Homo sapiens: one gene and its partners. The protein of the gene in region 1 interacts with the protein of each later gene in a pairwise test. Each region holds a gene or a part of one and is shown in the gene's direction. Other genes may lie near its edges. The genes, in order: ANXA2, ELMO1, NUSAP1 and PCSK9.

Region 1 (7,407 bases):
ACTTACAGAATCAATACGTGACTCACATATGCTCACTCAGGCTTTGCTTGTATGGAAGCATCAGTTTCTGCAGAGTGTAATGTGGCTGTGCATACCAATCAGGCAGGCAGGTGGGAAGCAGAAGAAGGTGGAGGAGACACAGCCAGGGACAGGATGGTGTACTGCTCTGTTGTGGTGGGGGAGAAAGGGAGGCCAGCAGAGACCTGTCCTTTTCTGGCTGAATAAGACTTTTGCCAGTTCTAGTTCCATTATCTCTGAGAACTATTTGTTAAGCTTATTCAGACTGCAATGAACTATATTCTTTACTCAGAGGGACAACGATTATCTCAAAGTAAGTCATAAAAGCTGCAGAAAAAAATTAATTTAAATTAATGTTAGTTTTAAAATTCAATATATTCCACACGGCACTTCTAGCAGGTAGTAGAGAAGGGTTTTAAATAAAGTAATAGAAGTTGGGTTTTGCAGTTCCTAGATGGTGGAAGATCACGGAATGAATATCTACCCTTGCATAAGCCTTTCTTCCTCTTGCCCTCCCTGCCATTGTTAGGGCTACTTGTAGCCCCTAAATTTTCCAGAAACTGAAAGTGAGATGAGATGGGCTCCTTTTCCAGCTCCATCACTCCCTGAGTCTCTGAGAAGCTTGAGAATGAGAGCCTGGTCTGTAGCTGTCCAGTAAACATCTGCTAGCTTATCTGCCCCTAAATGTGCCCAAAGGGAGGAGGGCCAGATGTGTTAATGAACATTTACTTGTTCTTCTTTATATGAATACAAGCTCTTGGTCCCTCCTTTCTTATTCAAGGAAGGAGATTGTACAGCAGACCTCACGAACTATCTGCAGTCTCATATGGTATCCATCTGTGCCTAAGGAAGACTGCTTGTGATTAAGACTTTTGACCTAAATAGTAGGTCTCTGCCCATGTCTGCAGTATAATCATCTTTCCTCGTTTGGCATTTTGAATGTGTAGCTTTTTTTGTTTTTTTTGCATGACATTTTTTTTGACGTTACATTGGATGTGTAGTTAACTTTTCCTGGTTGGTTGTACTCGTAGGATCTCTATGACGCTGGAGTGAAGAGGAAAGGAACTGATGTTCCCAAGTGGATCAGCATCATGACCGAGCGGAGCGTGCCCCACCTCCAGAAAGGTGGGCACTGTGCTGAGGGAGTCTCAGTGCCTTGGGGCCCTGGCTGGGGCGGCTGGGTGGATGTCCATGTTGGGATGGAGTCTGCCAGAATGAGGTTCTGTCTCCGCTTGGCACTCTCATAGGCTCACCCATTTTCCCTCACCTTTCTCTCCCATTCTGGATTCTTTTCTCTTGCAAATAGTTTCTGCATTTGGTGCTTTATTCTGCAGCTCCTTCTTGTTTGATGATCATTTGGTCTTGCCATTATTTGTTGAAGTAGTGGACTTTGGTGCATGCTCTGTACTGTTTCCTATGGTTTTCGGATGGAATGGGTTCCACTCAGGGGAGATAGAGATGGTCCAAATATGTGGCCTGGGCAGTGCCATTCAGGACAGGTGGTATGGCTGTTCCACGACAAACTTGGCCAATGTTGGCTCTGGTCACCGTGGTAACCTCTAAGCTCCTAGGATGCTGTGATCATCCTCAATTTTTAAAAAAATTATGGTGCATAAAACTAGGTGGGTGATCGTTGACAGCTTTGACTAGTGGCTCGGATCTGATAACTCTTTGTTGTTTTTCCTCAGTATTTGATAGGTACAAGAGTTACAGCCCTTATGACATGTTGGAAAGCATCAGGAAAGAGGTTAAAGGAGACCTGGAAAATGCTTTCCTGAACCTGGGTAAGTGAATGTGGCCCCCATTCCTGGTAGACATCAGCTACCAGAGCAGAAGTGACAGATGGCCATCCTGTTAATCCAAATGTGTTTGGGAGGTGTGGCTTCTATGCATGCTTTGGATAGTTTTACAGTCTTAATTGTATAGATTTCAGAATATAAAACTGAAGAAAGGCCTAACTTGGTAACAGATTGTTGCCAGGGAGGAGTAAGAGAACAGGAGGAGAGAGGGGTGTGTTGTGGAAACTCACGTATGCACTTGGGTTCTGCAGGCCTCAGAGACCCCTGGTTTAAAACCGTGGTGGAACTTAGTATTGCAGAGGATTTCTAGATTTCCCTTAGCCTGTCCTATTTTGCAGCCCTTTTCCATTGCATTAGGTCACTTCTGGTTTGTGGCCCAGGGCCAGGGCATCCTCTCTCATTGGTAGAGGAGAGACCAGAGCAGCTGCAGCGCTGACTCCCTTTCTTCTCTCCACAGTTCAGTGCATTCAGAACAAGCCCCTGTATTTTGCTGATCGGCTGTATGACTCCATGAAGGTAAGGGCAGCTGGCTGAGAGAGCTGTGTTTCCACACTCAGCTTTTCTTCTTTTGGGTCCCAAATTGAGTCTCCTTGATTCATGGATGGAGGAAGGGGACCCCACTGTGTGGATGCAGGAACACACTAGTCAGCTGTGGTTGTATGTGACAGCTGAGAGAACCACAAATCTGTCTTCTTTCTCTCAGCTGCTTGAACATGTATTTGCGTACAGACAAAAAGTAAAGTGCCATGGGAGAGAGAAAATGCGACATGGTAGTCGTGTCTGATCCCTGCTTAGGTTTCTCCGTGATTTCTTCCTGTTACTGCCAGAGTCAAGACAAGCGAGGAAGGGAGCGATTATTAAGCACCCACTATACAGTGGACAAGTGCTACTATTTTACCTTAAATCATTGCATAACAACCTCTGAGGCTTATGATTATCTTCTTTATAAATGCAGAGATGGAGCTCAGAATACCTCAGCCTGCTTGAAGTTACACAGACAGATTTGAACCTGGGTCTATCAGACCCCAAAGACAGCCCCACAACCCTTCCCTAAACGAACCACCTCTTCCCGTAGACCCATCCCATTTTCTACACCTCAAGTGTGCCATGTGTTTTCTGGCTTCTAGGCTTTTGCATTTTCCTTCTGGAACATCTCCCTTGTCTGTGCTGCCTCTGCCATCTGTCTTTGAGTTCCATATCAAATAGCACCCCTTGGTGCCTTCGCTCTGATGCTCTGGAAGTAAACTCAGTGGTCTTTATTGCACATATCATTAGAAATGGCACAGAGCGATGATAGAAATGTGTTGGCATGTTCCCTCTAAGCCTGCAAGAGTCAGGAACCTCTTGTTACATATGGAGACTCAGACTGCTTGAACTGAGCCTTGCAGTAGTAGGTGCTCAGTATATATTTATTGAATGGTGGCATAGAGTGGGAGTCTGTGCTGACTACAGCCTGGTGTGTTTGGAATTCCCAGATGCTCTTCTTTCTTTTCTTTTCTTGTCTTGTCTTTTTTTTTCTTTCTTTTTTCCTCCCTCCCTCCCTGCCTTCCCCTGCCTCCCTGCCTTCCCCTCCCTCCCTGCCTTCCCCTCCCTCCCTGCCTTCCCCTCCCTCCCTGCCTTCCCCTCCCTCCCTGCCTTCCCCTGCCTCCCTGCCTTCCCCTCCCTCCCTGCCTTCCCCTGCCTCCCTGCCTTCCCCTCCCTCCCTGCCTTCCCCTGCCTCCCTGCCTTCCCCTCCCTCCCTGCCTTCCCCTGCCTCCCTGCCTTCCCCTGCCTCCCTGCCTTCCCCTGCCTCCCTGCCTTCCCCTGCCTCCCTGCCTTCTCCTGCCTCCTTGCCTTCCCCTGCCTCCCTGCCTTCACCTCCCTCCCTTTCCTTCCCCTCCCTCCCTTTCCTTCCTTTCCCTTTCCCTTTCTTCTCTCTTTCTCTCTCCTTCCTTCCTTCCCTTTTTCTTTCTTTCTCTCTTTCTTTCTCTCTCTCTCTCTGTCTTTCCCTCTCTCTCTCTGTCTTTCCTTTCTTATAGGTTTTTGGGAAACAAGTAGTGTTCGGTTACATGAATAAGTTCTTTCGTGGTGATTTTTGAGATTTTGGTGTACTTATCACCCAGGCAGTGTACACTGTGCCCTAATATCCCTTATCCAAAATGCTTGGGACCAGGAATGTTTTATATCTCAGATTTATTTTTGATTTTGTAATATTTGCATATATATGATGAAATATTTTAGGGATGGGACCCAAGTCTAAACTTGAGATTCATTTATGTTTTATATAGACCTTACACACATAGCCTAAAGGTAATTTTATACAACGCTTTTGATAATTTTGTGCATGAAACAGTTTGTGTTAAGTGCTGTATGTGGAATTTTTCATTGTGGCATCATGTCGGCACTGAAAAAGTTTTGGATTTTGGAGCATTTTAGATTTCAGATTTTCAGATCAGGGATGCTCAACCTGTAGACGCTTTCTTTAACGATAACATTCTCAGCGAATGTAACAAATATCAACTTGATTTTCAGGGCAAGGGGACGCGAGATAAGGTCCTGATCAGAATCATGGTCTCCCGCAGTGAAGTGGACATGTTGAAAATTAGGTCTGAATTCAAGAGAAAGTACGGCAAGTCCCTGTACTATTATATCCAGGTAAGCCCGAGGTGCAGTGTCAGCCTGCCCTGCCGTCCAGAGCACCCCGGGCCCTGGCAGGTGGCCTGGCAGAATGATGACAGAGTGGCGATTTTCTGTTTTCTGACTCTCTGGGGAAGAGATGCTAGTCATCAACTATCAGGGATTTATTTTGAAAGCACCATTTGTGATTTGTCCTGGACTTTGTACAATCAGGCAGATGTTTTATATTTTTCACATCTGTTACTCTACAATGATCATCGGTGTTCATGACGATGATCCTGCAAGGCTTGCTGACATCCCGAAGAGGCTTGGAAGATCAGTTACATTTTACTTTTTTTTTTTTTTTTGAGACGGAGTCTTGCTCTCTCGCCCAGGCTGGAGTGCAGTGGCCACAATCTCGGCTCACTGCAACCTCCGACTTCTGGGTTCACACCATTTTCCTGCCTCAGCCTCCCAAGTAGCTAGGACTACAGGCGCCCGCCACCACACCCGGCTAATTTTTTTGTATTTTTAGTAGAGACAGGGTTTCACCGTGTTAGCCAGGATGGTCTCGATCTCCTGACCTCGTGATCCGCCCGCCTCGGCCTCCCAAAGTGCTGGGATGACAGGCGTGAGCCACTGCGCCCGGCCACATTTTACTTTTATTATGCATTGGTTCCTTGAAAAATCCTCTGGGATAGGCCTAACAACTTTCAGTTATTCAGAACTCCCATCTCTCCAATCAGTTTAGCATCTGTCTGTTTTGATGTGATGTCGCATTTGCAGTAAGGAAGTGATGGCATTCACAGTGGTACCACTGTGTAGATTTCAGACAGCCCTTGCAATTCCCCTTTCTAGAAGTTCCTCAGATGTCCAAAGGCATGCCCATGGTTAGCAAGGATAAAGTTAGAGCTGGATTTTTTGTAGCCAGGTTTATTAGGGCACATGTTTAAAGTCAAAGGACCAGTTAGACTCTTAGTAATTGTTCCTCACCTCACCAGCTTATTTCCACTTGACCTTAATAATGCAGGAAATAGGAGAGTGAGCTAGGAAAGTACCCTGTTTTCTGTGGAAAGACGAGGACGAGAGAGGAAAGTTAGGGTGTTTGTAGGACCTTGCTGCAGTAAGAACAGCCCTGGTCACTAACCTATGTCAATCCTCAGCACCTTGCACTCCCTCCACCCCACAGTCCTAAGGAGCCTTGAGTGTCTTCCCCAGCACCTCCTCCGACCACACTCCTGGAGGCTTCCCTGGCAATGGTTTGGGTGTGGCCTTCCAGGCCTTTGTATCAGGGCAGGTCTCCTGCAGAGTCTTCTCTTTGTCATGGGAGAAGCTTCATTGTGCGTTGAGGCTACTTCTGTGTTATTGAGGAGTCTGGGCTTTTTTCTGATACCACGTTTCTTTTCTTTCCTGGGCCATTGTAGCAAGACACTAAGGGCGACTACCAGAAAGCGCTGCTGTACCTGTGTGGTGGAGATGACTGAAGCCCGACACGGCCTGAGCGTCCAGAAATGGTGCTCACCATGCTTCCAGCTAACAGGTCTAGAAAACCAGCTTGCGAATAACAGTCCCCGTGGCCATCCCTGTGAGGGTGACGTTAGCATTACCCCCAACCTCATTTTAGTTGCCTAAGCATTGCCTGGCCTTCCTGTCTAGTCTCTCCTGTAAGCCAAAGAAATGAACATTCCAAGGAGTTGGAAGTGAAGTCTATGATGTGAAACACTTTGCCTCCTGTGTACTGTGTCATAAACAGATGAATAAACTGAATTTGTACTTTAGAAACACGTACTTTGTGGCCCTGCTTTCAACTGAATTGTTTGAAAATTAAACGTGCTTGGGGTTCAGCTGGTGAGGCTGTCCCTGTAGGAAGAAAGCTCTGGGACTGAGCTGTACAGTATGGTTGCCCCTATCCAAGTGTCGCTATTTAAGTTAAATTTAAATGAAATAAAATAAAATAAAATCAGTTCCTGAGTCACACAATCCACATTTCGAATGCTCAGCTTTCACATGTGGTCAGCAGCTAGTATATCTGGACAGCGCAGGCAGGGAACATTTCGATAGAAAGTTCTGTTGGGCAGCAGTACATGCCCAGGGCATGAGAGGACCTATGGGGGAGAAAAAGGGTCCCAGAGGGACCCCTTATCTGCTTATCTTTCTACAGGTTAATTAGGTGAAAATAAGCATCAGGGGCAGCCACAAACTGGAGAGAGCAGTGGGGCAGGGTGGGGCAGGCTACAGCATTCTGGCAAAGGAGATCCAACACAAGCCGATGGGAAGCACGGAGAAGGGATTTCTTTTGACTGGGAGGATTGAGAAAGATGATAGAGAAAAGGAACAATTTGAGCTGCACACTAAAATCTAAGGTGAGGTTTTACAGCTGGGAGAAAGCACTCCATGCAGGTTCTTAAGGGTCTGGGAATGAATGACAGGTCGCTGATACAATGGTACACATGTCAAAAAGTTCAGAGACTTCTTTCTGTACAGGGAAAGTTATGTCTCTCCCTTACTAGCCAGTGGCCTTCCCTGGAGTCGCCTGGTTTCCAGTACATTTTCATGGATAGACTGCATACGCATGTATATATATGTATCTATCTGTGTTCATAAATGTGAAGGTGCTGTCCCCAGGCTGCTGGTACTGGGTTCTGCAGATTCCTTTTTATACAAGTGCTCCCCATAAGCAGGGTAGAGGGCTGGGAGTGAGGGGAAGTTGACTACTCCTCCTAACCCTTCTCCTTAGTGGAGGGTGTGTCAACTACTCATTTTTGGCACCTGGCTGATGCAGGGCCCACTCAGTCATCTGCAGGGACTAGGTAGGTAATGGAAATGAATGTATGAAATGGGCAGGTTGGACAGAAGTGGGGAATCTGGGGAAAATGGGGAATGCCTGCCTTGCTTGAGGCATTCAAATTCAATTCAAACAACAGTCGTAACAACATGGCATTGACCAAACCAAATACATCCGTGAGCTGATTGGCTGCTATTTTGGCCCTTTGGC
Region 2 (8,071 bases), on another chromosome or scaffold:
AGTTGGTTTTTCCCTAGCCAAGTATAACATCAGTGCCTTCTTTTGGAAGGAAAGTTTCATATAAATGCTCTTGAAACCCTAGCTGTGCAGGAGAACCTGGCTTACCCCGCAAATGTTTTCAGTGCCTGGACAAACATCCCACCATTTTGCTTTAGAGACCTGGTAATTTTTGCCTCTTAAAAATTTGAGAGATTTACAGGCATCTACCTAGATAATTTTAAATACAGGAGTGGAGCTTCATGTTCTCCATGGCTGGTTTTTTGTTTTGTTTTGTTTTTGAGACAGAGTCTCGCTCCGTCACCCAGGCTGGAGTGCAGTGGTGTGATCTTGGCTCACTGCAACCTCTGCCTCCTGGGTTCACGCGATTCTCCTGCTTCAGCCTCCCAAGTAGCTGGGACTACAGGAGCCCACCACCACGCCTGGCTAATTTTTTGTATTTTTAGTAGAGATGGGGGTTTCACCATGTTAGCCGATCTCCTGACCTCGTGATCCACCCGCCTCGGCCTCCCAAAGTTCTGGGATTACAGGTGTGAGCCACTGTGCCCGGCCCTCCATGATTCTTTTAGGTTTTGATAACATAGGAGAATTTTAAGATCTCATTCTAAGTGATTCTAAGAAGTATTTATTGGATCGTTGATTCATGCACTGTAATGCCCCTTAGCTTCTTAAAAGTTACATAAGTATTTCTCTTATTTAGCCAAGATTTTTAAATGAATGAGCAGTACAAGGAGCTAGTGTGTATAATTAATTACTGCTAACTCCTCTTGCTTCTTCCTTATGTTACAGGCCTACTTTCGAGAAGCTGTACTGTGGCTGGCTTGGGTTGGCTCACTTGTGTCACCCAAAAGTACAGTAATGGAGCTGGGATAAATTGAAAGGCAGAGGGAATCATTATTACTCTTTTGGGGGATAAAGGAAATGAAAATTTAAATAGGCATGAATAACCTTCTCTAGCTATATGAAGATCTATAGTTTTCAAACTGGACGTAGAGACATGTGTCCATTAACTAATTTATACATTCAGTTATAAGGAGTTGGTCTCAAGCTCCCTGGAGGACGACAGTTATTACATTCACTTGGATCAGCCCTGATGCGTTGGTTATTAATACTCATTAAGTGGAAGTATTAGGTCATTTGAATATCTGGCTAAAACCAGTGACAAATAAAACAAAAGAAAGAAGTTAAGTTTCAGAAAACCATTAGCATCTACTTCAGACTTGTACATAGGACTGTAATGCATTGAGTGCCCCAGGTGTGTTACACAAAATGCTCATTATGTAACATGCTTTAGGATTGCTGAAATGATTAGTTTATTTATGTCAAGGAAGAGGTGAATTACTAGGAACATGAATTTTAAAGAATACTTTCATGAAAGTAAGGGATTCATTTCTTAGGAGAAAAATAATGAATGGAAATGGAATATGTATGTGGGATATAAATATGCCTGAATTAAAGCAAAGACAGCAAATTATTTTTACCACCATTGAGCAAGCCCACTGGCAGCAGAGAAGAGTTAATGATTTATAGAGAACTTTAAAACCCATTATGAGAAGGTATACTTCATATCAGAAAACACTGAGTGTAGGCTGGGTACCGTGGCTCATGCCTGTAATCCCAGCACTTTGGGAGGCCGAGGCGGGTGGATTACTTGAGGTCAGGAGTTCGATATCAGCCTGGCCAATCTGGTGAAATGCCATCTCTACTAAAAATAGAAAAATTAGCTTGGCGTGGTGGTGCATGCCTGTAATCCCAGCTACTTAAGAGGCTGAGGCAGGAGAATTGCTTGAACTGGAGAGGTGGAGGTTGCAGTGAACTGAGATCATACCATTGCACTCCAGCCTGGGCAACAGAGCAAGATTCCGTCTCAAAAAATAAAAAATAAAAAAGAAGAAAACACTGAGAGTTCTGATTGAATATTTCAAGAAAGGAAATATTGTAAAAAGGATATTTATGGAAGTAGGCAACTAATTCAGGGGGTAAATTTCCATTTGATGGAAAACTTGAACATAAAATAAACTGCAGAAGATTATGTTTCAGTAACCCAGCAATGAGTTAGACCACTGGGCCAGTGTTATTTGTATATACTCTGTATCAAAACGGAGACATGTCAGATGTATCACAGGGATATAAAATAGGCAGCTGGAAATATGAATCACCAGTGATTATGGATTCTTAGAAAAGAGTGATAATTGGGAAGAGAGGAGTAGGAAGACAATGAGATTGATAATCCCCCTTTTTAATTTTTGGCTTTTTTGGAATATCCAAATGGTGGCATCCTTTTGGATGCCAAGAATAGGCCCGCAGTGTACTTCATAGTAAATGCCTTTTTATCTGTCCATACTAGACTGTAAGGTCCTTGAAGTTTGTTATTTTCATCTTTGTATTTCCAGCTCTGTGGGACAGGGCAAGCCTGTTACATAGTACACACGCAATGCATGTTACTGAAATGGATCACTTAATGATGAGTAAATATTGGCTGAATGAAAAGAGTGGATAAAGATGGAGGCGGAGGGTGCTTGACAATATCAGCAACAGCTTCTCAGGCAGAAGCCTCCATGCATCCTTAAGGCACATCCAAATTTAATAAATAGAGACAAGCAGGGGAGCCGGGAATGAGGAGAAAATTAGTTGCAAGAAAATCTGAAGTATTGTCAATGAATTTCTTTATGAGTTCTTCAGTTTCCTAATACCAGTGCCAAGAATTATGCCGAGAGCGTGAAAAATGGTTTGGTGGGGTGGGGGAGGAGTCAGATAATTTATCCTCTGTTTAGAAGATGTCTAAGTTAAGTATTAAACCCTGAACACAGTGTGACAATAATTGGATTTTTGTCAGAGAAAGATGGACCTAGGGAAAGAAGGGTGGCCTTAGCATGGTAGATTTGGTGGATTGGAGCAGACTGCGAGGAATAAGTCAAGGGCTTGCCAAGGATAGTAAACATGTCGGAGAAGGTTATTAGCCATGAGAAGAGCTGAAGCAGTCTTTTGAGAACCTGAAAATTTCCATACTCTTCCTGAAGTTTGTATTTTAAAATAATAGCTTTTCGGAATGTAAAATCATAATGTCACTGCACTTCTTCACATTATTTCCCACCCCTGAGATCCAGATGTAGCTGGGGTAGGCAGAGTGTTGGTATCTGCGTCTCCCACCCCTCCTTTCACCTGGAAATCAGCGGACTAGGGACAATTCCGATGGTACCTGGGAACTGCCATGGTGTGCTGTGCATTTATCATGTGCAAAGATGGAGAGGAGATGAGGCAAGTGGTCTCTGGGGCAGCAAAAAAGGGAGAAATTAGTGTTGACAGGGGGGAAGCAGCAAGAGTTTACTTGTCGTGGAACCAAGTTATTTAGCTTTTAAGAACAGTCATTATGCTGATATAATAATGGCTTTTTATTGTGAGCTGTCAACAGACAGTAATAACTTTTAATGAGGCCTCTAAAATAAAACCTTTATGGTACCCATGTGTTTGGATTACTGCGATCCATTATTCTAACCTCTATTTTATTTTCCGCTCACATTGTGATTTATTATGTTTGGGGATTTAGTGATTAATTCCTTAGAGAATCTATTTTGGAGCTTAAAGTAGTATTTTAACTTTTAGTACTGCTCACTTAAATGATTTCCTGTTTGCTAAATTTGGGAGAGATGAAAAGAACTTGTTTTAACCATCAGAAATTGGAAGAAAGGGGTAACGAGTTTTTCGTTTAAGAGAGTGGCCGGTGACTGAGAAGTTGCCAGTTGAATTGTGTTGACAAGTGAGATTTGTGCGAGTCCCTTAAGAATGCAACAAGAACATAATAAGCATATAAAAGCCATGGATTGTGTGGATGAAGGAGTAGCCTGGGAATGCAAGAGGAATGGCAATTAACATATGTTGACATTACCATCCCAGAGAAACACAGGTATCCTTACAATATATGTGTTGAAATTGTCTGCCCCTAAAAGATGAAACTCAGGAGAATAATCCTAGGAAATACAGAAAGAATAATCCTTGGAGGTGTGTCTTTTTTAAAACATTTGCTTATCAGTGAATTATAGAGATGAGATAAATCATGCTTTGTAATGATATCATGAACAATCCCTAGTTCAATGGGTTTCTTGCTATTTTGCTGTAATTCCAGGTCATCCTCAGTGCCTGGTGTTTCTTAAATGAGTTCCCGATTTGATTCATTTGTTCCCTTCTCCACGTCTCTGCTCTACTTACCACGAGCAGTCAATTGTGTCCCACTTGGATTTTCAGATAGCAAGTTTTGTGAACAAGTCAGCCATAGACATCTCGATCCTGCAGCGGTCCTTGGCCATTTTGGAGTCGATGGTGCTCAATAGCCATGACCTCTACCAGAAAGTGGCGCAGGAGATCACCATCGGCCAGCTCATTCCACACCTGCAAGGGTAAGCATGCCAAGATGCTCTGGGGAGGAGAAATGCTTCAGGAAGATGGCCACGGTAATGCACTGGGAAACGTTTTATGTTGTTATAGTTTGGTTAAATGTACAGAAAAAGAATCTCAATTTGGCATATAACCAAACCACGTGTCACACTGGAATGGCATGGTTACTTTCCCTTGGCCTCTGTCCCTCACTGAACTCCAAGCTGGTTCTTGGCATTGCCTGTCCCCACGCCTGGCCCTTGGTAAGCTCTCAGTTTTAATGGATATTGGTAGATATTGGCAGAGTTTTACTTTTAAGAAGATAAAACAGGATGATTTGTTCTCTTAAGTTCTCTTTCTTAAACCATGTAAGTTAATGTTTTCTGTGATATAATGAGTATTTTCATAGTTAATTAGAAATGTAATGTTATGCATTTTTACTAGGAATTTTTAAAGGCAGGCTTCTTTCTTAGTTATGCTCAAGGTGATTCTAGTGAGCTTCTTCTTTTGTATTTTATAATAAAATGTAGGATTTTTTCTAGTGGCTTGAGCTATAAAATGGACATAAGATAGCTGCCCCTGCAGCCTGCAGTCTTTGAGGCATTTTTCCCCTTCTTTCCTCCCTGAGGTAACTAGGAAGGTTGTCTCTGACAATACCAACCTGAGAAGGACTCTATTGTACAGTGCTACCTTAGAAATTCAAGTATTTTGGATTGCAGTGATAATAAACATTATGAGCTTGCTTACACAGGAAAGGAGGTTATTGGAACAATACTGGGGTACTTTGTAGAATCCAGAAATGACATAAGTAGCTAAGCCTTGAGAAGGAGAGAAACCATAGCTTCCCCGGAGTCCTCAGCAGATGGCCTTTTCTCTAGCATTTTGGTTGGCACTACAGTGACCCAACTCCCCCTAACTGTTGCCCCTGGTCCATTAGGTCACAATTACAAATTCTCAAGAGGAAACCCAATTGGCCCATTTGGGTTGGTGGTGCAGGGTGGGAATGGTTCTCTGAAATGTTAACTGTTGTGTTGATAATATAAACTACCAAAGCAGATTATATTAGATATTATTTTCATTTGGAGGTGGGAGGATTACCAACATTTAAAATTTAAGTCACAGAAGCTGAGGATTGTGGTGGCCTCCGTGATTGTGGCCTCAGAATCATAATTCTTCAAAATGATGATAATGTAAGGTAGCTTCTCTAGAAATAAGACCAGTTTCACATTTCCTTTGAATGTGAACTGTATTAATTTATATACTGTGTCTTTTGTGGGAATCTCAAAGGCACACATCTTCATCCCAAAGCACGTTACCAAAGTGGAGAGTTTATTATTCTCCAAGTACTGTGCTAAGGATTTTACATGCATAATCTCATTTTATCTTCACAGCAATCCCATGAAATAAGTGTGTCTAACCCCATGTTGTAGATGAGGTAACTGTGCCTTGGGGGATACTCATGAACTTGTCCAAGGTCTCAGCCAGCCTGTGATGAACTGGGCTTTGCACCCTATCCTGGCCTAGTTCTAAGCTCCACCTCTCTCTCACTGGCCTGATAAGTTATTCCTAAATGTAGCTCATAAGTCACTCTTTGTTTATGCCTTGAGTCCTCCTTATTTACTGTTTACCACTTGCCTTACATTAGAGCTTTGTTTCATTTTATTATTTCTGGTTCCTTTCCAGTGAAAATCAGATTTATAAACAAACACCTGTTCTTTTTGTTATTGAAATGTTTATATTTGGAAATAGATTTTTAGAATATATAATAGAGCCATCCAATTAGCCCAAGAATGTGGAGACATCTGAAACTACTCCCTGATATATTTCATGTATCAGACAGAAAATTACACATACATACACATACACATACATACATACAGACATACATACATCTATTACTAGTAGTACATCAATTACAACATCCCCTAGGTTTATGCCTTTAATCTGAATAAGAGAGAAGGCTGCCTATATTTCTGGGCATTCTGCACTGACCAGTGTACTGTCAGCTAGTAATAGTAGTTGTATATTTACCACCTTGTGATGTTTGAAATGCATTCTCAGTGCAAAATGCATTTTCTAGGCCCTGCCTTTCTCTCTCACTTTTTTTGGGGGGAGGGGGCTGATTTTGAGCCTTTTCATGGTTTGACCCAGGGCTAGCCTCTTCTGACTTCGTGTTCTGATTTTCTGAATTGTTCTCTATCTTTACAGGTCAGATCAAGAAATCCAAACCTATACTATTGCAGTGATTAATGCGCTTTTCCTGAAGGCTCCTGATGAGAGGAGGCAGGTAAGTTGCATTTCTTTAGTCTTATGGCTATGTCAAGGCTAGGAACTTTGTGTGCAGAGAACGCCCTCTCCTTCTATTCGGGGACTCATTGGGCCTCTCTGCTATCCTGGCCACAGATGGACTCTCCAGAGCAGCTATGTTCCGCTGCACGGCTGGCCCGCTGGGGTCCTTCCCAAATCCAGGGGCAAGTGGGTAGAGATGGATAAGCCCTTGACTGATGAGGGATGCTAGGAGTGTTCCAGCAGTAGAGCCTTTTCATGAAATGAAATGCAACCTGGAAGCCCAGATGTAAAAAGATGAAAACGCTGCTGTGGTGGAAGCAGAGTTAGGAGCCCCTGCGACCTTCTGTCATTTCATGGGATGCTCACTAGGTTGAGGGAAGTGCTGTTCTCATTTTCTGTATCAGGAAACAGACCCTGAGGGGTGCCATGTTTTTCCCAAGGAAGGAGGTGATGGAAGGTAAGAGGACAGGAGGGATAATATGCAGATGGCTGCTCCTTGTGGAGATAACTGCATTCGTATGTCAGAGGGGCTCCTTGCTTGGTGAGATTACTTACTTCTGTGTGTGGATGTGGCTGGGAAATTGGAGCCATCTGTTTCCTCTCCTGTATAAAAAGAGCCGGGTGCGGTGGCTCACACCTGTAGTCCCAGCCCTTTGGGAAGCCAAGGTAGGCAGATCACTTGAGGTCAGGAAGCTGAGACTAGCCTTGTCAATATGGCAAAGCCCCATCTCTACTAAATATACAAAAATTAGCTGGGCATGATAGTGCACGCCTGTAATCCCAGCTACTCAGGAGGCTGAGGCAGGAGAATCACTTGAACCAAGCCGGGAGGCAGAGGTTGCAGTGAGCTGACATCACACTGCTGTACTCCAGCTTGGGCGACAGAGCAAGACTATCTTAAAAAAAAGAAAAAAAAAGGAAGGAACCCCTTAATATACATACATGGAACCTTTCCTCTGATGGTGTCCTTTGTCTGTAGATCCTTTATTTCTTTCTTCACGAAGGAAAGGAGCATTACAGAGGGGATGTGAAGAAGTGGAATTTTGCCTTGTCTTGGAATTTAGGTCACACCTCAAAATCCATTCATGTTTTTTTCAATCAACATGTCATGTAATATGTTACCCTGGTCACAATTTCCTTCCTTAAAAAAGTGGGTGGGAATATGAGCTCTTTCACTCACCTAGAAACTATGCTGGGGAGCTTGATGGCAGTTGCCAGTGAGTTCGTTTAGAAGAAATTAGAAAGCGAACCTGCTACTGAATGCTATGACAAGAATTTTTGGATTTTATTTTGCTTTTTCATTGCCAAGGATTTTAAACCTCAGTGACTAAACATGAGGGGTTCTGGTTTGTTTTCCATTTAGAATTTCTTATTCATCCCTGGGGGGCTGTGTTTGCACAAGTAGTGGTGTCAC
Region 3 (8,071 bases), about 19 Mb from region 1:
GGCGACATAGCGAGACTCCGTCTCCAAATGGGTGAATGGTTGAAGCCCAGGAGTTTGAGAGCAGCCTGGCCAACATGGCAAAACCCCATCTCTACTAAAAATATAAAAATTAGCTGGGCGCGGTGGCTCATGCTTGTAATCCCAGCACTTTGAGAGACTGAGGCAGGCGGATCACCTGAGATCAGGAGTTTGAGACCAGCCTGACCAACATGGTGAAACCCCATCTCTACTAAAAATACAAAATTAGCCGGGCATGGTGGCGCATGCCTGTAATCATAGCTACTGGGGAGGCTGAGGCAGTAGAATCGCTTGAACCTGGGAGGCAGAGGTTGCAGTGACCCAACATCGCACCATTGCACTCCAGCCTGGGCGACCGAGCAAAACTCCATCTCAAAAAAAAAAAAAAAAAAAAAAATTAGCCAGGCGCAGTGGCACATACCCATAGTCCCAGCCACTCGGGAGGCTGAGGCAGGAGGATGGCTTGAGCCTAGGAGGCAGAGGTTATAGCAAGCTGAGATCATACCACTGCATGCCAGCCTGGGTAATAGAGCCAGAACCTGTCTCAAGAAAAAACACTACCAATTAACTATTGACATCTTATGAATTGTAAAAACACATCCCAATTTCAGAGATGTTAAAATGTAGAAAAAATACTATCAGTCAATCAATCAAATACATTTGTGGCAATTTGCCATATGTAAAGAATGGTAAAGAATGGGCTTATTTCTCTACCACACAAATGAATGACATTCTTTTAGGAACATACAAGACCTGTTCTCACCACTCACCTAGCATAGCAGTCTTCTGCTACCTGTGACTTCCCCTAACCTGGAGGAGGAGGAGGAGGAGGAGGAAGGGGAGCTTTTGGCTTGCCTCTTGGACTATAATGAGGCCTCCACACCTATTCCTCCATCACCATCATTGTCCAAGGCAGGGAGAGCAGAAAAGACAAGAACATATTTTACAAATAATGTTAGTTGATATGTGATTTAATTTAGCATTAGCCTTTTAGGAATATGTCTCTTCTGCAAAAGAGGTTCGTTCCTATGACAATTATTAATTGAGGCCCTTTTCACTGCTTGCTAATAGTCAAGTGGTTTTATTTATAAGCTAGACACAAGTTACTCTTGCCACAGTACTCATGTCTTGTACTCTGCTGTCCTATTTAGGTTTTCAGCTGCTACTAAAGATAATGAGCATAAGCGTTCACTGACCAAGACTCCAGCCAGAAAGTCTGCACATGTGACCGTGTCTGGGGGCACCCCAAAAGGCGAGGCTGTGCTTGGGACACACAAATTAAAGACCATCACGGGGAATTCTGCTGCTGGTAAAAAAAAAAAAAAACAAAAGAAATCTGTTTCATTTTTAAGCCATGTAACTTCCCAAAATGATTAGGTATATCTGTTTTTTTTGTTTGTTTGTTTTTTTCTGAGATGGAGTTTCGCTTTTGTCACCCAGGCTAGAGTGTAATGGCGGGATCTCGGCTCACTGCAACCTCTGCCTCCCAGGTTCAAGCAATTCTCCTGCCTCAGCCTCCTGAGTAGCTGGGACTACAGACACATGCCACCATGCCCGGCTAATTTTGTATTTTTAATAGAGACAGTTTCACCATGTTGGTCAGGCTGGTCTCAAACTCCTGACCTCAGGTGATCCGCCCGCCTCGGCCTACCAAAGTGCTGGGATTACAAGCGTGAGCCACTGCGCCCGGCCTGTATCTGTTTCCTTAAACCCTTTCCATTTCTATAATCAAAAGCAAAAATTTTACCATAGTGTATTTTTAATTGTGTACTAGTGGGGGAAATGCCAGAGACATAAGCAAAAACCAGATATCTGCCTGAGAGCTCCATCTAATCCTAAAATGGTGACCCTCCAGGAAGGGCACTGTGCCCCTTGTGGGACTCAGGGATTCGGAGGATGAGCACAGTATTCGTTGCAGCCTCGGAAAGGTCCTGGAGGACTCTGACACTAACAGGATCCCAGACCACAGACTTCATGTTTCAAGATTCAACCATGTTGACTCGTTTTCACAGTATTTTTCAGTGGTGTGGGTATATGTCAGTTTATCTATTTTACTATTCACGAACATGTGGGTGGTTCCAGCTTCCATTATTATATATGATGTTGCTATGAATACTCTTAAACATGTCTCCTGTACATGTGCAAGAGTTTCCCTAGACCTAGGAGCAGGACAGCTGGATTGGAAAATATGCAGACATTTACTGTCCTGAATGAATTGTACCAATCTGTGCTTCCAGTGGCAGTGTATGGCAGTCCCTTGTTCTACTCCCTGTCAGCATTTGATACTGATACAGTGGGATAGCTTGAACACAGGGTTTTGTGCTTTTTTTTAACTAAGTGGTCTTAGATCCTGATTGCTGTTTCACAGATGTAGGCAAGGGTTCACATTTGGCAATGACCTGTGGCTTCCCCCTATGAAAAGAAAGGATTGGCCGGACGCAGTGGCTCTTGCCTGTAATCCCAGCACTTAGGGAGGCCGAGGTGGGTGGATCACTTGAGGTCAGAATTTCAAGACCAGCCTGGCCAACATGGTGAAACCCCAACTCTACTAAAAATACAAAAATTAGCCGGGCATGGTGGCATGCACCTATCATCCCAACTACTCAAGAGGCTGAGGTAGGAGAATCGCTTGAACCAGGAAGCAGAGGTTGCAGTGAGCCGAGATTGTGCCACTGCACTCCAGCCAGCCTGGGCAACACAGTGAAACCCTGTCTCAAAAAAAAAAAGAGATTGGGAGAGAAAGGATTAACTGATGGCCAACTGTAGCAAAAAGGCTAACTAAACTACACCATCCTTAGGCTGGGCATGGTGGCATGGAGACCAACCTGGCCAACATGGCAAAACCTCGTCTCTACTAAAAATACGAAAATTAGCCGGGCGTGGTGGCACGCGCCTGTAATCCCAGCTACTCACTTGAGAATCACTTGAACCCAGGAGGCAGAGGTTGCACTGAGCTGAGATCACATCACTGTACTCCAGCCTGGGAGACAGAGCAAGACTCCGTCTCAAAAAAATTAAAAAAAACTACACCATCCTGGATATTTTTAACTTCGTGGTGCAAAAATTCATATTCTTTTTTTTTTTTTTTTTTTGAGACGGAGTCTCACTCTATCACCCAGGCTGGAGTGCAGTGGCACCATCTTGGCTCACTGCAACCTCCGCCTCCTGGGTTCACGCCATTCTCCTGCCTCAGCCTCCCGAGTAGCTGGGACTACAAGTGCCCGCCACCACGCCCGGCTAATTTTTGTATTTTTGGTAGAGACAGGGTGTCACCGTATTGGCCAGGTTGGTCTTGAACTCCTGACCTCGTGATCCGCTCACCTCGGCCTGCCAAAGTGCTGGGATTACAGGCATGAGCCACCGCGCCCAGCCAAAAATTAATATTCTGAAGTGATAAGAGCCCTTATTAATAATATTCCTGACTTTAAACAATCCTCCTGCCTCAGCCTCCCAAAGTGCTGAGATTACAGGTGTGAGCCATATCTGTTATCAGGGAAATAAGCTGAAAAGTTACCGTCATTTCCTTCAACAGAATTCTAAACTCCCAGCTGATCCTAGGATCCCAGCACTTTGGGAGGCCAAGGCAGGTGGATCATGAGTTCAGGAGATTGAGACCATCCTGGCTAACACACTGAAACCCCGTCTCTACTAAAAATACAAAAACAAAATATTCAGAACATTTACAAAGCTGCTTAGCAAAGGAAATTAATCTCAATGGTTAGCTTTCCTCAATTATTGTTTTCCCCTTTTCTCCATTTTAACCCTTATTTCAGACTTTCATCTATTTCAGACTATTCATGTAGATTGTCTTAGTCCTTTGCGGCTGCTATTATATAACAAAGCACCAAAGACTGTATCTTATAAACAGCGGTAATTTCTTTCTCATAGTTCTGGAGGCTGGATGAGGGCAGATCAGGGCACTAGCATGATTCTGGTGAGGGCTGTTTTCCAGGTAGCAGACTACCAACTTCTTGTTGTATGCTCATGTGGCAGAAAGAGAGCTAGAGAAAATTCTATGGGGTCCCTATATAAGGCCCTGAATCCCATTCATGACCTATTTACCTCCCAAAGGCCCTACTTCCTTACACCAGTCATATTGACAGTTAGGATTTCAATATGAATTTGGGATCGCAGGAGATACAAACATTCAAGCTATAACTTTTTTCTTTTTTTGAGACACAGTCTCACTGTCGCCAGGCTGGAGTGCTGTGGTGCAATCTCGGCTCGCTGCAACCTCCGACTCCCTGGTTCAAGGGATTCTCCTGCCTCAGCTTCCTGAGTAGCTGGGATTTTGGGCACACGCTGCCACGCCTAGCTAATTTTTGTATTTTAGTAGACACGGAGTTTCACTATGTTGGCCAGGATGGTCTCGCTCTCTTGACCTCATGATCCACCTGCCTCGGCCTCCCAAAGTGCTGGGATTACAGTCGTGAGCCACTGCACCCAGCTTCTTTTTTTTCTTTGTTTGTTTCTTTTGTTTTTTTGAGATGGAGTCCCACCCTGTTGCCCAGGCTGGAGTGCAATGGCGCAATCTTGGCTCACTGCAAGCTCCACCTCCCGGGTTCAAGTGATTCTCCTACCTCAGCCTCCCGAGTAGCTGGGATTACAGGCACGTGCCACCACACCTAGCTAATTTTTTTTTTTTCCCTCTCTGAGATGGAGTCTTGCTCTGTCACCAGGCTGGAGTGCAGTGGCACGATGTTGGCTCACTGCAACCTCTGCTTCCCGGATTTAAGCAATTCCCCTGCCTCAGCCTACTCGGCATGGGACTACAGGCATGCACCACCACGCCCAGCTAATTTTTTTTTTTTTTTTTTTTTAAACCAAGTTTCGCTCTTGTTGCCCAAGCTGGAGTGCAATGGCGCAATCTCAGCTCACCACAACCTCCGCCTTCCGGGTTCAAGCAATTCTCCTGCCTCAGCCTCCCGAGTAGCTGGGATTACAGGCATGTGCCACCACCCTGGCTAATTTTGTATTTTTAGTAGAGATGGGGTTTCTCCGTGTTGGTCAGGCTGGTCTTGAACTCCTGACCTCAGGTGATCCACCCGACTCGGCCTCTCAAAGTGCTGAGATTACAGGTGTGAGCCACCACACCTCTAGATAATTTTTTGTATTTTTGTGGAGACAGGGTTTCACCATGTTGGTCAGGATGGTCTTGATCTCCTGACCTCGTGATCCGCCCACCTCGGCCTCCCAAAGTGCTGGGATTACAGGTGTGGGCCACCATGCCCAGCCTATAACGTGTATTTTTAAGATTGAGAAGTAACACTTTGATAAACACTTTACCAGGTCTTTGTTTCTAATTAAGCTCTTGGGTTTTTTCGGTGTGTTTTTAGTTATTACCCCATTCAAGTTGACAACTGAGGCAACGCAGACTCCAGTCTCCAATAAGAAACCAGTGTTTGATCTTAAAGCAAGTTTGTCTCGTCCCCTCAACTATGAACCACACAAAGGTATGTGGGAGTGTTTTGAGCTACAGGGCCTGTAAAATACTTAAGATTGGTGGGACGCAGTGGCTCACACCTACTAAACATACAAAAATTAGCCAGGCGTGGTGGCAGGCACCTGTAATCCCAGATACTTAGGATGCTGAGACAGGAGAATCACTTGAACCTGTTAGGTGGAGGTTGCAGTGAGCCGAGACCGTGCCACTGCACTCCAGCCTGGGCAACAAGAGTGAAACTCCATCTAAAAAATAAAAATAAAAAATAAAAACTTAAGAATAAACAAATTCTGCGGCCGGGCGCAGTGGCTCTGGCCTGTAATCCCAGCACTTTTGGGAGGCTGAGGTGGGCAGATCACTTGAGGTCAGGAGTTCGAGATCAGCCTGGCCAACATGGTGAAACCCCGTCTCTTCTGAAAAAAAATAAGAAAATTAGCCTGGCGTGGTGGCGGCGCCTGTAATCCCAGCTACTTGGGAGGCTGAGGCAGGACAATCGCTTGAACCTAGGAGGCAGAGGTTGCAGTGAGCCGAGATTGCACCACTACACTCCAGCCTGGGTGACATAGTGAGACCACGCCTCAAAAACAGGCTGGGCGCGGTGGCTCACGCCTGTAATCCCAGCACTTTGGGAGGCCAAGGCAGGCGGATCATGAGTTCAGGAGATCGAGACCATCCTGGCTAACACATTGAAACCCCGTCTCTACCAAAAATACAAAAACAAAATTAGCTGGGCATGGTGGCGGGCGCCTGTAGTCTCAACTACTCGGGAGGCTGAGGTGGGAGAATGGTGTGAACCCAGGAGGTGAAGCTTGCAGTGAGCCGAGACCACACCACTGCACTCCAGCCTGGGCGACAGAACGAGACTCTGTCTAAAAAATTTAAAAAATAATAATAATTAAATTTAAATTAAAAAAAAAAGCAACACATAAACTTCAAGAAATTTGGTCCCAGTTCTTTTTGTAAAATTGCAAATTGGTTGGACACAGTGGCTCATGCCTGTAATCCCAGCACTTTGGGAGGCCAAGGCAGGCAGATTGCTTGAGAACAGGAGCTCAAGACCAGCATGGGCAACATGATGAAACCCCGTCTCTACTAAAAAATACAAAAATTACCCGGGCATGGTGGCATGTGCATGTAGTCCCAGCTACTCATGAGTCTAAATTGGGAGGATCACTTGAGCCCAGGAGGCGGAGGTTGCTGTGAGCTGAGATCAGATCACACCACTGCACTCCAAACTGAGCGACAGAGTGAGATTCTGTCTCAAAGAAAAAAAAAGTATAAATGTTGATAGCAGGTAACCCCACAGATGAAGAGAATGAAGTTGGGAATATAAATCAAACAATCTTTTTAAAATTCTTTGTCTCTGTCCTAAACTAGGAAAGCTAAAACCATGGGGGCAATCTAAAGAAAATAATTATCTAAATCAACATGTCAACAGAATTAACTTCTACAAGAAAACTTACAAACAACCCCATCTCCAGACAAAGTAAGTACATAATTATCCAGCTTTATAATTATTTTAATTTCAAAAGCAGCACCTCTGAGGGATAGGGGCTCAGTAATAGTGGTGTTTTAAGAGGAGGTTAGAAGTGGTATTATGGCCGTGTGCGGTGGCTCACGCCTGTAATCCCAGCACTTTGGGAGGCCGAGGTGGGCGGAACACGAGGTCAGGAGATCGAAACCATCCTGGCTAACACGGTGAAACCCCGTCTCTACTAAAAATACAAAAAATTAGCTGGGCATGGTGGCGGGCGCCTGTAGTTCCAGCTACTCGGGAGGCTGAGGCAGGAGAATGGCGTGAACCCAGGAGGCAGAGCTTGCAGTGAGCCGAGATCGCGCCACTGCACTCTAGCCTGCGTGACAGAGCCAGGCGCCGTCTCAAAAAAAAAAAAAGTGGTATCATGGGCCAGGCACGGTGGCTCACGCCTGTAATCCCAGCACTTTGGGAGGCCGAGGGGGGCAGATCACGAGGTCAGATCGAGACCATCCTGGCTAACGCATTGAAACCCCATCTCTACTAAAAATACAAAAAATTAGCCGGGCGTGGTGGCGGGCGCCTGTAGTCCCAGCTACTCGGGAGACTGAGGCAGGAACCTGGGAGGCAGAGCTTACAGTGAGCCGAGATCACGCCACTGCACTCCAGCCTGGGCGACAGAGTGAGACTCCGTCTCAAAAAAAAAAAAAAGTGGTATCGTGTATATAACTTTCTGAGTACATCTGCCTAGGTTCCAGTGTAATGGACTCCAAATCAGCAGATTTGGGGTGAGGCCCAAGCACCTGCATTGTTTCCAAGGCTCTGCAGGTGATTCAGAAGAAGACCCAGATTCAGAGCACTGCTCTTGCATGACTCATCTGCCTAAACACAGGGCATGTGGGTATCTCTCCAGATACCAATGCCCAGCAGCCCAGGGCACCTACATATCCAGATAGACATAAATTCCTCACTCCTAAGAAAACCAGGCTTACAAGGCGTCAAGGCCCTATAAAGAGGAAAAACCCAGGACGGTCCTTAGAGGCTTCCTTCAGCATGAAAACCAAGTTAAAGCCAGAGCTCATCCTGGGTTGCAGCAAGTCATGGTTGGGCCCAGATTCCCTGCTTGGACCCTCGTG
Region 4 (7,000 bases), on another chromosome or scaffold:
AGGGAACTAGCAGCCCCTGCCTCACCCGGGGGTTTGGAAGATAGAGGGAGGCCTAGGAAGGGCCCTGTGTCTCATCCGAGCTGGGCCCCTTTCCAGCCTCTCACTGGAAGGAAGCCCAAGGATGTTCCTGTGGGGGCTTTTACCAGGCCCACCTGCCCTCTGCTGGCCATGCTTGCAGCCTCCTGACCCTGTCCCAGCAGGACAGTGGGCTGGTGTGAGCGGGCAGGAACCGCCTGCACTTAGAAGGTGTGGGGCTGCCTCCCCGAGCTTCCATCTGCCGCTGGGGCCACACCCCAGGCCCAGGGATGGGACCCCACAGTGGTCACATCATCTTGCAGCAGAACCCAGGTACAGCTCCTGGAGCAGATGGTGGTCCCAAGCACGGGTGGGACCAGAAAGGACTCTCACCTGGGCTAACTCAGCTGCAGCCTCAGTTCCCTCCTCACACACGACGAGGAACATGGACTGGAAGCCTGCCCAGCAGGCCTTCTGCTCGATGTGCGTTGTGTGGCTTACGTCCAGGGAGGGAAGCAGCCTCTGTGCTGTCTTCTAGATAAGCCTGTATTCCCCGGGCTGTCTGCCAATGTATCCAGTTGTCCCGTCAGCCTGGAAGCTCTGAGGGAAAACCTTGGGCTGCTTCCTGAGCACCTGTATCCCCTGCAGCCAGCCCGGGGCCTCTGCTAGGAGCAGACTGAGCATGGCTTATGGGCCTGGCACCATCTGGCCTCTGCCCACCTTGCTGGCCTTGTCTTGTGTCTGCCCCTTCGACATTCCATAGCCCAGCTCAATATCTAGTGGTTCCTCTAGGGTGGCGAGCACTGTTTGGTCTCCAGATGTCTTCAGGTCGGAGCTCACAGCGCTCTCAGCCACCCCTTCCCAGTGTAGCACCGGGCACATGGTAGATGCCTATTGATGAGTGAAAGCTCCTAACACACTCAGAGAGCAAGGACTCCGCCTCATCCCACAGCCTGGGAGGAGAGGCAGACTGCCAAGGACCTGCTCAGCATGCTACAGAAGAAACCAAAGTGCCCACGGGACTGATCAGTGGAGCTTCCTGCCGAGACTGGAGGCCTTAGGGCAGGGTAGACAGTGTGTGTGCAGGCTGGGGACTCACAGTTCGGACTGTGCCCAGACCTACTAGCATAGTGGGTGGGTGGGAGGATGCGGGACTGGGGGCCGACCTTGCCTGAAATTCATGTGGGATCTCAGAGCAGCCACTGAATTGCTCTGTAGGGGGCTAAATAGTGGCCCCCACAGATACACACACCCAGACAGAGCCTGTGAGCCAGACCTTATTTGGAGAAAAGGTCTTTGTAGATGTAATTAAGCATCTCAAGATGGCATCATCTGGATTATGCGGTGGGCTGTAAGTCCTGTGATGTGTCTTTATGAGAGAAAGGCAGAGGGAGATTTGACACACACAGGAGGGGCCACGTGGAGACAGAGGTGGAGATTGGAGAAATGTGGCCACAAGCCAGGGAACACCAGCAGCCACCAGAAGCCGGAAGACGTGAGGCAGGGTTCTTCCCAGAGCCTTCGCTGCTGAGTCTGGGAATTTGTGACCGAAGCCATAAGAAGTGGGTACACGCCCTGAGCCTCCCACACTTGCTCACCTGTCCTGAGATGAGAATCTCTACTCTGCAGCATATTTGGAGGATCACTGCGGGGGCCACAGAGGTGCTGTTCAGATGGCACTTCAGAAGACTCAGGAGACCCTGGGGCAGGAGCAGTTTGACTGACAGCCCAGAGGGCTGCCCTCTGATTCCACCTGAGGCCCTGCTTTTCCTGGCTGCAGGGGTTCCAGGGCCAGGCCATTTCCGCTGGCGCAGGACTCTGCTAGCAGCAACCTGCCTGAAGTCTTCCTTTGGCCTGGCTGAGAGTTTCTGAGACCTGCGCTGGAGCGGAGGTGCTTCCTTCCTTGCTTCCTTTCTTCCTCTCTCCCTTCTCCATCCAGCAGGCTGGACCTGCCTGGCATCTGTGAGCTCTCCCTACTTTCTCCTATACCCTAACCTTTGTCCTGCATGGGCGACTCCCCCAGTGAGTCTCTTGCAGCTTTTACCCCAGTGCCTGCTTCTTGGAGAATCCAAACTGATCCAGTTAGGGATGATAAAGTGTAGGGTAGGCGCTCGGTGACTGTTTTCTCTGAGGTTGTGACTCGTGTGAGGCAGAAGCAGTCCCCGTGAGCCCTCCTGGTATCTTGTGGAGTGGAGAACGCTTGGACCTGGAGCCAGGAGGCCCAGACATACATCCTGTCCGAGCTGCAGCTTCCTGTCTCTAAAATGAGCCGGCCAGCGCAGGTGGCCAGACATCACTGTTATTCTCCTTTGAGTCTTTAAATCTTGTTGTCTTTCTTGCAGACTCGGTGAGCTGTGAAAGGCTATAATAGGGGCTTTATTTTACACTTTGATACTATTTTTTGAACATTCATATTATTGTTAGATATTGATATTCATATGAAGGAGCAGGATGACTTGGGTCCTTCTTGGCAGTAGCATTGCCAGCTGATGGCCTTGGACAGTTACCTGCCCTCTCTAGGCCTCCCTTTCCTTGTCTATGAAATACATTATAGAATAGGATGTAGTGTGTGAGGATTTTTTGGAGGTTAAACGAGTGAATATATTTAAGGCGCTTTCACCAGTGCCTGGGATGTGCTCTGTAGTTTCTGTGTGTTAACTATAAGGTTGACTTTATGCTCATTCCCTCCTCTCCCACAAATGTCGCCTTGGAAAGACGGAGGCAGCCTGGTGGAGGTGTATCTCCTAGACACCAGCATACAGAGTGACCACCGGGAAATCGAGGGCAGGGTCATGGTCACCGACTTCGAGAATGTGCCCGAGGAGGACGGGACCCGCTTCCACAGACAGGTAAGCACGGCCGTCTGATGGGAGGGCTGCCTCTGCCCATATCCCCATCCTGGAGGTGGGTGGGGACTGCCACCCCAGAGCGTTGCAGCTGTACTCCTGGGTTGCACCCCCCCCAGCTGTCACTGTCCCCTCCCTGCCATCAGTTGTGGGAAGGGCGTTCATCCATCCAGCCACCTGCTGATTTGTTATAGGGTGGAGGGGGGGTCTTTCTCATGTGGTCCTTGTGTTCGTCGAGCAGGCCAGCAAGTGTGACAGTCATGGCACCCACCTGGCAGGGGTGGTCAGCGGCCGGGATGCCGGCGTGGCCAAGGGTGCCAGCATGCGCAGCCTGCGCGTGCTCAACTGCCAAGGGAAGGGCACGGTTAGCGGCACCCTCATAGGTAAGTGATGGCCCCAGACGCTGGTCTCTCTCCATCTGGACCTGGCCTGGGAGGTGGCTTGGGCTGGGCCCAGGGAGAGCTAATGTCTCCTAACCAAGAATGCTGTGGCAGCCTCTGCCGCAGAGCCAGAGAACCAGAGTGCCAAGGCTGGCAGGGTTCCCAGTGGCCACGAGTGCAGATGAAGAAACCCAGGCCCCAAGAGGGTCATGCAGGTAGCCCAGGGAGTTCAGCCTTGACCCTGGGTCAATGACCTTTCCACAGTTCCACACTGCTCCCCTTTTAAAATCCGGTGATGTCTTTATGTCTTTTGTTATGTTATCTTCAATGTGGAGGGACTCGAGGTGATCTAAGCAAACTTTTTCTATCTTCTGCTTGCATACCTCTGAGACCAGGGGACTCACTCACTTGCATGACTGGGCCCTGCAGGTCACACTGGCCAGGCAGATGTGGTGGAGGAACTGGCAGAGGACTTTTTCTAGACTGTGACTACATTTAGTCCACCCAGCGGCCCCCCTATGAAGTCCAGTTGAGAACTAGGACTCTGGGGGCCGGTGGACAGAGAAGAGGGAGGGTTCTCTCCCTTACTGACTTCCTTCTGTGGCCAGACATTGAGCAAGGCCTCTGTACAGCATGTCCTGGGGCTGGCCTTGCCGTAGCTGCTAAATAGTTGACGAAACCAGTCCAGAGAGGGGAGGTGACTGCCAGGGTCGCACAGCTCAAGCTGGGGAACTCGCTGGGAAAACTGTCAGCTCTGGGCAGCAGCTTGACTTCCACTGTAAGCCCCAGCCCCCAGGGTCAAACACTGGCTCTGGTGCTGGCAGAGGCAGCCCACTAGCCTGTTTCAAAGGCTGAGAAGGCCCAGGAGTCTGCCCTGTGCTCCACCAGTTCTGCCCTGAGACTTTCCTACAGAGTACAGGTTTTGATGTTCAGTTTTAAAGGCAAGAATCAATAACCTTCTGCCCCATCAGGTGACCCCTTGTGCCTGTCCCACCCCTTTATTGACTGACCTCGGCTCAGTCAGGTCAGTTCCTGAAGGTCAGTGTGTGGAGGGGAGGCTGTTCTTTCCCAGAAAGGCCTTCCCCAGGCCTGGTGCTCTGGCCTCTGGAGGACTTCCTGGAGAAGTCCCTTCTTTGGGGTCCCAGTCAGTGTATGGGAAGCCCTTATTGCATGACCTGGCACGGGGCAGGGGCTCAACAGTCACTATTGCCTTCCTTGCCACTGCCATTTCCTCCTCTGTAAGCAGGTGATTGTGTGTCCAGTCTGAGCACAGAGATAAGCACACAGCAGGTGCTTAATAACTAGCAGCTGTAGGCTGGGCGCGGTGGCTCATGCCTGTAATCCCAGCACTTTGGGAGGCCGAGGTGGGCAGATCACCTGAGGTCAGGAGTTCGAGACCAGCCTGTTCAACATGGTGAAACCCCGTCTCTACTAAAAATACAAAAATTAGCCAGGCATGGTGGTGGGTGTCTGTATCCCAGCTACTTGGGAGGCTAAGGCAGGAGAATCGCTTGAACCCAGGAGGTGGAGGTTGCAGTGAGCTGAGATCGTGCCACTGCAATCCAGCCTGAGTGATAGAGCGAGATTCCATCTCAAAAATAAATAAGTAAATAACTAGCAGCTGTAAATGTGGCTGTTGTTCTTCACCTCCACACTCAGTGCCACTCCACTCCCTCCCTCCGTGGTGTGAGGGGCCTCACTAGCTGTCTCCTAGGAGGAGCATGGCTGTGAGATTCCAGCTCCATCCTTGGCCACGGCTCCTGGAGACATCTTAGAGGCCAGGATCCAGAAGGCTCCCACACCTCATTTGACAGGGGAGAAGCTGTCAGTTCCAGGTCCCCTTGCACATCAGGGCCAGAGCTGCGTTAGGCCTCCAGTCTCCAGGCCACTGGGCCAGAGCTCACAGGCTGGCAGAGGGTTAGAACTGTTACTGGTGGCTGGGTGCAGTGGCTCACGCCTGTAATCTTAGCACTTTGGGAGGGCAAGGCGGGAGGATCATGAGGTCAGGACATCGAGACCATCCTTGCTAACACGGTGAAGCCCCGTCTCTACTAAAACTACAAAAAATTAGCCGGGCGTGGTGGCAGGCGCCTGTAGTCCCAGCTACTCAGGAGGCTGAGGCAGGAGAATGGCGTGAACCCGGGAGGCGGAGCTTGCAGTGAGCCGAGATTGCGCCACTGCACTCCAGCCTGGGCAATAGAGCGAGACTCCGTCTGGAAAGAAAAAAAAAAAAAAGAGCTGTTACTGTTGACAGTAGCATGAGGTAGACCATGGCCTGCACCAAAATGGGGGAGTGGAGTGCCACTGAGGCCAGAAGGAACCACACCCTCAAGGGTGGGGAGTTATGGTATGGGGGGTCCTAGGCATGGAGTCTTTTAATTCTTTAGACAATCCTGGGAGCAACTGTCCCTGTTTCACAGAGGGCGGGGCCACACAGCTGGTGAGTGGGCAGCCAAGACTCTGTTCAAGTTTGTGTGGGTCCAACACTTGCGGCCACGGTGGAGGGGCATCTGAGCCAGGCCTCAGAGAGTGGCGGGGGAAGTTGGGTGGGGAAGTGTGCCCTTCTCATTCCTCTGAGGCTCATCCTCTTGGTGCCTCTCTTTCATGGAAAGGGATAATAAGGTTATTGTGAGGATCCCCTGAGTTCGTATATTCAGACGCTTAGACAGAGCCAGGCACAGAGAAGGGCCCGGGGTTGGCTAGTTTGATTGCTGGTGTAATTGCTAATATCTTCCAGTTTGTATTGGTCAAGGTTCTGCAGAGAAGCAGAACCAGTAGGATGTATATATTAAGAGTTTCAAGCTCATGTGACCGTGCGGGCTGGCAAGTCTGAAATCCGCAGGGCAGGCCAGGCAGGCTGGCAATTCCTGCAGAATTTGATGTTGCAATACTGAGTCCTAAGGCAGTCCTGGGGCAGAATTCCTTCTTCCCTGGGAGGCCTCAGTCTGTTCTCTTAAGGCCTTCAACTGATTAAATGAGGCCTGCCCAAGTTATAGAGAGTAACCTGCCTTACTCCGTCTTCTGATTTAAATGTTAGTCACATCTAAAAAATATTTTCGCAGCAGCATTTCCACTGGCTTTTGACCAAACATCAGGCCACAAAGTTGATCCCCAAAATTAACCATCACTCTGTGCCTGTAAGGGAGGGGCTGGGAAAGGGGAGCAGGTCTCCCCAAGGGGTGACCTTGGCTTTGTTCCTCCCAGGCCTGGAGTTTATTCGGAAAAGCCAGCTGGTCCAGCCTGTGGGGCCACTGGTGGTGCTGCTGCCCCTGGCGGGTGGGTACAGCCGCGTCCTCAACGCCGCCTGCCAGCGCCTGGCGAGGGCTGGGGTCGTGCTGGTCACCGCTGCCGGCAACTTCCGGGACGATGCCTGCCTCTACTCCCCAGCCTCAGCTCCCGAGGTAGGTGCTGGGGCTGCTGCCCCAAGGCGCGGGTAGGGGGCGGAGGGCGGAGGGCGGAGGGAGGGCGGGCGGGCAGGCGGGCTTCTTGTGGCACGTGGGCTTCTTGTGGCACGTTCCTGGAGGCCGAACCCTTCTGGCTTTGGAAGGAGTCGTCAGAGACCCCCGCCATGCGGGAGGCTGGGGAGGAAGGGGCTCGAAACCTCCATCATCGCAGAGTCTGAATAGCAGTGGCCCCGCCATGCGCCCACGTAGCGGCGCCTACGTAGCCACGCCCCCACACCCCGTCCTGGCCACTCTCCCTCCTGAAGGTCTTCTGGTACCCGCCCCCTCCCCATCTCCATCCCCAGGCCCTGCGTCC

Evidence for each region.
Region 2: the proteins of ANXA2 (region 1) and ELMO1 interact in binary tests that used the Homo sapiens proteins (3 or more experiments, as listed by UniProt).
Region 3: the proteins of ANXA2 (region 1) and NUSAP1 interact in binary tests that used the Homo sapiens proteins (3 or more experiments, as listed by UniProt).
Region 4: the proteins of ANXA2 (region 1) and PCSK9 interact in binary tests that used the Homo sapiens proteins (3 or more experiments, as listed by UniProt).

Annotation. Positions count from the first base shown.
Region 1 is NC_000015.10:60,346,119-60,353,525, reverse strand, and holds the end of ANXA2 (annexin A2), read left to right. Parts: intron 1-1,049; coding exon 1,050-1,143; intron 1,144-1,706; coding exon 1,707-1,802; intron 1,803-2,274; coding exon 2,275-2,333; intron 2,334-4,328; coding exon 4,329-4,451; intron 4,452-5,836; coding exon 5,837-5,896; 3' UTR 5,897-6,375; downstream 6,376-7,407. UniProt on the Homo sapiens protein: Calcium-regulated membrane-binding protein whose affinity for calcium is greatly enhanced by anionic phospholipids. It binds two calcium ions with high affinity. May be involved in heat-stress response.
Region 2 is NC_000007.14:37,221,199-37,229,269, reverse strand, and holds part of ELMO1 (engulfment and cell motility protein 1), read left to right. Parts: intron 1-4,239; coding exon 4,240-4,391; intron 4,392-6,576; coding exon 6,577-6,655; intron 6,656-8,071. UniProt on the Homo sapiens protein: Involved in cytoskeletal rearrangements required for phagocytosis of apoptotic cells and cell motility. Acts in association with DOCK1 and CRK. Was initially proposed to be required in complex with DOCK1 to activate Rac Rho small GTPases.
Region 3 is NC_000015.10:41,370,358-41,378,428, forward strand, and holds part of NUSAP1 (nucleolar and spindle-associated protein 1), read left to right. Parts: intron 1-1,169; coding exon 1,170-1,327; intron 1,328-5,354; coding exon 5,355-5,471; intron 5,472-6,838; coding exon 6,839-6,947; intron 6,948-8,071. UniProt on the Homo sapiens protein: Microtubule-associated protein with the capacity to bundle and stabilize microtubules. May associate with chromosomes and promote the organization of mitotic spindle microtubules around them.
Region 4 is NC_000001.11:55,049,548-55,056,547, forward strand, and holds part of PCSK9 (proprotein convertase subtilisin/kexin type 9 isoform 1 preproprotein), read left to right. Parts: intron 1-1,644; exon of another isoform or gene 1,645-1,906; intron 1,907-2,730; coding exon 2,731-2,864; intron 2,865-3,099; coding exon of another isoform or gene 3,100-3,102; coding exon 3,103-3,244; intron 3,245-6,445; coding exon 6,446-6,642; intron 6,643-6,989; exon of another isoform or gene 6,990-7,000.